Regions from separate parts of the Homo sapiens genome. Here region 2 is linked to region 1. The links come from fine-mapping of genetic effects on gene expression. Tissue or cell type: whole blood. Region 1 holds a variant in brackets; the other region holds the start of a gene. All regions are shown on one strand. Distances are between the middles of the regions.

Region 1 (4,000 bases):
CTTATTTGAAAGCTACCCATCCAGAGCTGATCAAACAGATTATTAAAAGACATTCAAACCATCTACAATATGTCAGCTTCAAGGTAATATTTTAAATCCTTCTTTTAAAAAATAAAGTATTTTTAGTGGCTTTGTTTCCTAAACCAGTACATCTTCTCATGCCTTTAAAATATTTGCTTTTTCAGGGAAAATGCTTAAAAATTTAGAATTATTGTATACCTTAGAAGCTGTCACAAAATATTATATTTGATGGAGCTAAATTACTCTATTAATTATTAATAATTTCTTAAAACAGCAAAAGCAGCCACTAAATAAGCATAAGTCATTGATAAAGCTGTGAATTACATTGAATTATTGTGAACGATTTTGAGGAAGAAGAAATATCTAATAAAATAAAAATTGGGAGATTATAATTGAGTAGAGCTTAATTGCTATTTCTATCTAACAGGAACTTAGTGTTACTTACTGATGGCTTTTTGAAATGGGATCTTCAGATGAAAAGGAAGCATAGAAACTTTATGTAGAAGATTTAGATGAATATATTTTAGAGAGAAATAGAAAAAGGTACATGGGAGAATGCCAAAGGGAACTGTTTATTTCTTTTTGTTGCTGGAAGGAAGGTATTGGAAATCATGCAGTGATGAGATAAATGAAGTGGGTGGCTTTTTGCGATATCCAGAATAATTTAAGAAATCATAGCTGGATGTGGGTACCTGTAGTCCCATAGTCCCAGCTTCTCAGGAGGCTGAGGCGGGAAGATTGCATGAGCCCAGGAGTTTGAGGTTGTGGTGAGCTATGATTGTGCAGCTGTACTACAGCCTTGGTGACAGAGCGAGACCCTGTCTCTATTTAAAAAAATAAAAAATCACAGTGGTTTGTGTGAGGCTTGTCATGTTTTGTTTGGGTGATGAATAATGAAATATGGACATGTTTACTGGATCTTTAAACACCAGATTTTGTGGTAGCAAATAACTTATTGAAAAAAAAAAACAATGCATGAATACTTGATTTATCTGGACACAAGCAGTTGCTGAATAGTCCAGGCTAAACCTAGGCAGAACAGTAGTTCTTAACCCAGAGCTTCTGGCCATAACTAAAATCTTGTCTTCCCTCGAAGAATGTAATTTCCTCTTAGGTGGAGATTACCTGCTTATTCTCCCATGTCTGTCCAAGGAGGAGGAGAGAATTGGTGGTGGGAATGGTTGGATATGTTTTTGCCTTTTTTTTCCCAGAAAACTGCACAAAGGCGCTTAGGCCACTGATTGCCAGGTTTTACAAATAAAAATGTAAGATGAGTATTTAAATTTGAATTTCGGATAATCAATGAATAATTTTTAGTATAGTTACATCCCTTTTAATGTTTAGGACATCTTTAATGCTAAAAAATATCTGTTGTTTACCTGAAACTTAATTGGTGTCTAGTATATTATCTTGCGATCCTAACTGGGGGCAAAGGTAGGGGGATCAAACAAAAATTCAGGACTCATCCCCATACCCCCAGGGAAGAAGGCTAAAGAGGTTTCTGTTTGGTTTTAGTTATCTTTGAATTGTGTAAGAGTGTTCTAATGGTAAATTGTATACAAAGATGAGTATAATACAAATACATTCCTCTGATAGGTCTTAAAGTCCAGTTCCACCTAGTAGATTTGCTGGGTCATTTTTATAGCCCTGTGATACAATTCAGGTGTATCTAGTATAACCCTCATAAAATCATTTGTGCAAAAGTTGAACATTTTTAGTAGGGTTTTTTTTTTAATTTTCCTGAGGAAATAATTTCTGATTTACAAAAAAGAGTCACATCACAGGATTCTTCTGGGCTCTCCTGATAGTCTTCACTGATTATAGACCAAGGAGGCTTATAGTTAGAATTTTTAGTCTAGAAGAGTGGTTCTCTAACTTTATGTGCATCAAAATCACCTGAAGGGCTTGTAAAGCCAAAAATTGCTGGTCCCACCCCCACAGTTTCTGATTCAGATGGTCTGGGTTGGGTATGAACATTTGTTCCCATTTAAGTTCCCAGGTGATGTTGATGCTGCTAGTCTCAGGGACCACATATTATCTATAAGTAGCTCTGAAACTAATATAATTAGCACATTAGTTTTACAATCCACTCTTAACATTTTTGGGATAAAGT[A/G]GTGTATATGAATCTGGAAATTAATAATATCCTTTTAACTGTTTTAAGGTGCTTCCCAGGAAACAACTAACTTTTTGATGGATGAACTCCTTTTTACATCCTTGAGGGATTTTTTGGCCCTTTATCCTTCCCTTAGGAAATGTCTTTGCAGAAGTATGTGTGAGAATAGCTACATCTTATTTAGTTTAGATTTTCATGCCTGACTGGTCCAGTACACTCATTTTACTTCACATCTTTCCATTAATAACATTAATGATGAATCCCAGGTTGTGATACACGTGAACATTTTGAGTAAATACTTAGTTTTTATTGCATACCATAGACACTGTATTTACATCTATTATGTGATCCACTACCAAATACATAATTATTTTTTAAAGACTATAAATTGATTTACTCCATTAGTTTATACAGTCACTTTGGAATAAATCAGTGTAAAAGCCAACATTAAATATGTCTCTTATCATAATGAAAGCTAGGTCTTGTCTTGACAATTGCCCTTATACTTTTTCAGAGAGACTTAGAAAAGGCCAAGTTGGAGGTGAGGGTGGAGGGTGGATGATTGAAAGAATATTCTTTAAGTTATAATGCAATAAACTAGTAATGATACTTCTATAAAATGAATATGTGTACAGAGAAATATAAATATATACATGAGTAATCTTGAAGTCTGGGTATTTGGGGAAAAAAGTAAAAAAATAATAAAATATTCATGAGTAAACGGTGTTTCTTTTCTAAGGTGGACAGCAGCAAGGAATCAGCTGAAGCAGCTTGTGATATACTATCGCAACTTGTGAATTGCTCTTTAAAAACACTTGGACTTATTTCAACTGCTCGACCAAGCTTTATGGATTTACCAAAGGTATCTGCTGTTTTTGTTTTATTATCTATTACTGAGAAATTCAGTGAAAGTCTAATCTTTTTTTTTTGTATTGACAGTGTGAGTATAAGGAAAGTTATATATATACATAATGGAAAACCAGTTACTATTTAGGATGAAAATAAATAGTATTTTTTTAAGCTTTTTTTTTTTTTTTTTTAAATCACCATACTTCTAAATTGGTATGGTTAAAGAAATTTACAGAGGCGTCTATAGGAAGTATTAAAAGAAATTCAGTAAGTAAAATAGAGTCAAGCATATTAGAAAAAAAGGGACACATAGATACTCATTTTGGGGCTTCCAGAGCAGGTTGGTGAAGTTAGAATCAAAGAAAAGTAGAGTGCCAATATTGAGAGCAGGTATAGCTTCTAAAATCTTTTGGCAAATGTTCTGGAAAGATTTAATCATGACCAAAGTTAGTCTCAGCACAGTTTAGATTAATTTACAGACTTAAAGACATCCTTTCTTTGGGTGAAAAGTTAACATATATTCTTATATATATTCTAACATGATCCTGCATATAATCAGAGATCGTGTCTCTCTCTCACAACTATTCTCTTAAAATACAAAAATAAGAAGGGTGCATTTTTAGAAAGGCAACTGGTAAAGGTGTCTGAATATGTTAGCTAATGGTTAATAGGTTAGTATCCAACAATAATTTGATATTTTTTTCCCAGAAGACACTGAAAACTAAAATATAGACACCCTTTTAAGTATCTAGTAGTTTAATGTACTAGGATGATTGAGGAGGGAATATAACTAAATTGAATATATTAACCCAAGTGGTCGTTTCAGTGGAATGTCTGTACCAAATAAATCACCAGTTGATGTCAAAGTCTTAATTGATTTTGAAACATTTTCATTACATATGTATATTTTGAGATAAAATGTTTTTCTTCACATATAAAATAAGGGAAATGGGCAGGAGAATCTGATTATCTTAATATTTTAAGATCCTAAGTACAGAAAGATCATTGTGGTACTCC
Region 2 (4,000 bases), 28 kb after region 1:
CACTGCAGCTGAATTCAGCTCAACAGACACACTGGTCACCTATAATCTGGCACTGGGAAAGAAAGAAGTGGTGGCGACAACAGCTTCTATCTAAGAATCCTAGATCCCCAAGGTTGTAGCCAGATCTAACAAATCTTAACAAATCAACAAAAATTTCTATTTTAACTTAAGAAGTTAAAATCTTTATGCTAATCGAAACTATTAACGACGCTCCCAAAAGTTTCTGCTACTTGGGTACAGTGTTTTATAGGCACTTACCTGGTTTAAACAAATACATAATCACATGGAGATTTCACTGACACAGCAAAATCTATTTTAGTTCAAAGGTAATTTAAGTGTGAACTTAATAAACTTAAATATTATATTCAATTGAGGGAATTAGATGGGAGCACGTACTTAATATCTGAGACTTAAAAAAAAAATCCACTAAAAAGCCATAGTCAACACCTTGCCCTAATGTTAAATCAAATCGTTTGGATTTACAATTCTTGTTCTATTGAGTAATTTTGACTTCTTACAAACATTTTATTATTAACATTTTCCAGAAAACTAGCTTCAACCACAAACTTCTCTTTCCACGTAGTATATCACACAAAACAAAAAAGTGTTGTAAACATTTCAGTGAGCAGAATACACTATCTAGGTTTGACAACAGCTGGCATTTTACTAGATTTAATCCTTCCAGCAAACCTATGAGGTACGTGCTACCACTATTCCTATTTTTTGACTCAGGGCATGTGGGCACAGAGATTCTGAGTAACTTTCCCAAGATCCCTGGTGATGACAGAGCCAGATTTGACCCGCAGCAGGCAGAACTCCTTCCCACTCATACTGTCATACAAAATAGCTGTTTTTTTCAGGTTTGTTGTGTGCAGTTTTAGCTGTTGATTACTTATGCTAGTAAGTTAAAATTATGTCCAATGATGCTTTTGGTTTAAAGAAAAATAGCTGTTTTCAAAAACTGCTGGTCTTTCTCCTGCCTGATGTTGACACCATGTTTTCTTTCTCTGTGTTTAGCTATCTCTGACCGCCGGAGGCTGTGTCTTCTCTGTCAAAGGCTGGAATCGACCTCCCAGGTGTGCGGGCTCTGTCCCCGACTTAGGACCGGCGTCCTACCTCCAGGCTGAAGACTGGACAAAAGCGGTGACAATCTTCCCGGTCTAACCAGGACTGCAGGAGACGGGGATTCCCGGGATGCGCGACTTTTGAGGGCAAAACTGGGAAGTCCCAATAAGGACTTCGGATCAGGTTCTGATCAGGTTCAAACCAGAGCGAGTTGGTCGCCCAGTAAATTGTACCAAATGTTCCGCGGTAATAACTAACGACAGTGCATGATATAAATAAATGCGATAGACAGTGTTTTTAAACTACTCAAGAAATCAGCTACTTGTACCCAGAAGTCCCTCCATTAAATAACATTACTCTCCTTTTCTTCTTCCACGATTCAGGACTGTCCTGAGTCTGCCGCAAGTGACCAGAGGGGACGAAAGGTCCCAGGGCTGCACGTAACGAGCGGCTGCGACTCCCCAGTCCTCAACTTTGCTCTCAAGTGCGCTCCGAGCGTCACCCGGCGCTGTCCCCGCACCATCTCGTGACCCGACACAAACCACGGTGAGCAGGGGTCCCCGCCCCAGCACCCCATCCCCCATCGTCAACGCCGACCCCAACCCCGACAGTGCGCGCGCCGCCGCACTCACTTGTAGGGCACCGGCCAGTGGCGCCGGGAGGGGATGCCCGAGACCCGGGACCAGCCCGGAACCACCGCGAGCCAAAGCAGCGCCAGGGCCCAGCACCAGGAAGCGCGTCCCCGAGCCGCGCCCGCGCCCCGCCGCATCTCGGCGCCCTGTGCCGTGTCTACCTCCTGCGCCATCAGGCTGCACCCAGTACTTCCGGAGCCTCTCGAGGCCTGCGACGCCGGTGGGAGGAGCATGCGCGGAGCCGCCAGTCCGGGACGCGGGGCGCCTTGCCCCTGCGCGTCAGCTCCAGAGCTTGGCCCCAAGCGCAGGTTCCGGCGCATGACACCTCCCCGCGCCCGGCCCGCGGCGGCTTCCACACTTTGCAGTCCAGGAAGGTGCTTTGGTCTGGCTCCCAGGAGAATTCGATCCAGACCTGGGGCGTCATCTTTTATGAATTGACCTGTCCTTGCCCAAAAGCCACCACCAAAACCAAAAATCTGTCACCGGGGCTCCTCCCAACACCGAACTTTTACCCCATCCCACAGGGCCCACGCTAGGTGTCAACAAACGTTGAGTGAACGAGAATGTGTATTTGGAGCTGAGGGTGCAGGGCTGGGGGTGCAGTGAGGAAGAAGGGACAATAGTGCGGAAATGGCTCGTCGTCACCCGACCTGGGCCAGTCATAACAGTGGTTAACACTGACAATATGTGGTCCCTGCCACTCCCCAAGTGCTTAGTGGGGAAATGACTCGTCCTCACTCGACCTGGGCCAGTGATAACAGTGGTTAACACCGACAATATGTGGTCCCTGCCACTACCCGAGTGCTGCCGAATCTACCCCCTCCCCTACCGCTCCCCTCACAGGCAGGTGTTCCTTGCTTGGATCTGTCACTTCACTGGAAAGAAGTTTCTGCATCACCTTCTCTTCTTTGACTCTTCAACTAGGTCAAGAAAACAATGGCATCAATTACCCGGCTTTTGAGGAGCCTCTTGTGGCATGCTTTGCTGTTAGGCACAAATACTGACTTAAGTCTATACGTAGTACATTCAGGGCCTTGCCATAGTCACTTGTTTTTACCAGACAGCAGTTTTGCAGGGCCTTAGACCGGGACTTTCCAATTCCTTCACTTCACCCACAACTCGTGTGAAGCATCATAATGTTTGTAAGCCTATGGGAATAAGCAAGGTGGCTTCGGTAGCCGGAGATGACCACCACAATCCATTGGAGGATATGTAGCTTGTGGGGGTGTCACTGACTTCCTTGGGCCCTCCAGGTCTCTTGATTACATATGGGACTCAGTACCCTGCCCCAAACACACACTCCTTTGCCCACTTGCTGCTCCAGGTTTGGGGGTTTTGCGGAGGTTCAGGCTGGGCTGCATTTTACCATACGTTTGTCTAAGCGTTTTGATAGCTACCTAGCTCTCCTCCGTATACTATGGCCAAATTCAAAATTACCAAGGCTAAACTGGCTTCTTCAAAGACCTGCCCAAGATAAGAGGGGGAAGCATTCTAGCCCTGAGAGCTGAAATGTAATGTCTGATTTGAAGGGCACCTGAAGGATTCCGTGGCCCCACACTTGAGCCTAGCTTAAAAAGCAATCAGCAGGAACAGCTTTAAAAAAAAAAAAAAACATTGATTAGAGCATTTACAAATCCTGGAACCATACACAGTATGATGTATGAGGGCCACAGTAGATGGCCTCAACAACCAGAGCCTCCGTGGCTGCCTGGAGAGCGGTGATGCAGGCAGCAGCTTCATGAGATATTTGCAGTTTAATCCAGTCATCTGCAAGCACAATCTGCCCATCAGATTGGACTTTCTTGGAGGCAAAGAGAAGCAACTGCAGTGGGGTGACTAAAGTCATGCCTTTAGCAGAGATGGCTCGAGTTCAAATCTTTTCACCAAATACAAAGAAGGGAGATAGGTACTTCATGTCTTGGCTACTAAAAGGACAATTAACAGTAGATGGTTCCAGGTTCCATCTACTGTTAGTAGAGGGCCACAGTAGAACCTCCCATTCAGTTCAGGACTTCCCAGAGCTACAAAAACAAATTCAGGTTGACCTTGTTCAGTGGTGGAGGCCTCTGGTCTTGCTTCTGCCATCTGTCTCTTCATTCTGTGTGCAGGGAGCTTTCATGGTAAGAAAGCACTTCCTAGTATTGGTTTTTATTTTTTATTTTTTTGGAGACGGAGTCTCCTTCTGTCACCCAGCCTGGAGTGCAGTGATGTGATTTCGGCTCACTGCAACCTCCGCCTCCCGGGTTCAAGCAATTCTCCTGCCTCAGCCTCCCTAGTGGCTGGGTACAAGTGTGTGCCAGTTG

What was found. PIP is the estimated chance that this variant, and not a neighbour inherited with it, causes the effect.
Region 2: CLN5 starts here. The variant in region 1 is fine-mapped to the expression of CLN5 in whole blood (TOPMed, PIP 0.95).

Annotation. Positions count from the first base shown.
Region 1 is chr13:77,017,596-77,021,595 of GRCh38, reverse strand. FBXL3 (F-box and leucine rich repeat protein 3) reads left to right here. Exons shown (of 5, transcript NM_012158.4): 2 at 1-83; 3 at 2,874-2,996. Among named protein-coding and RNA genes, the nearest start is that of FBXL3, 7.6 kb to the left of the region's middle. The variant A/G (reference allele first, on the strand shown) is at 2,135.
Region 2 is chr13:76,989,969-76,993,968 of GRCh38, reverse strand. CLN5 (CLN5 lysosomal BMP synthase) reads right to left here and starts at 1,888. Exons shown (of 4, transcript NM_006493.4): 1 at 1,698-1,888. The coding sequence starts at 1,870. RefSeq lists an enhancer at 384-1,583 and silencers at 1,605-1,844, 2,305-2,374, 2,465-2,554.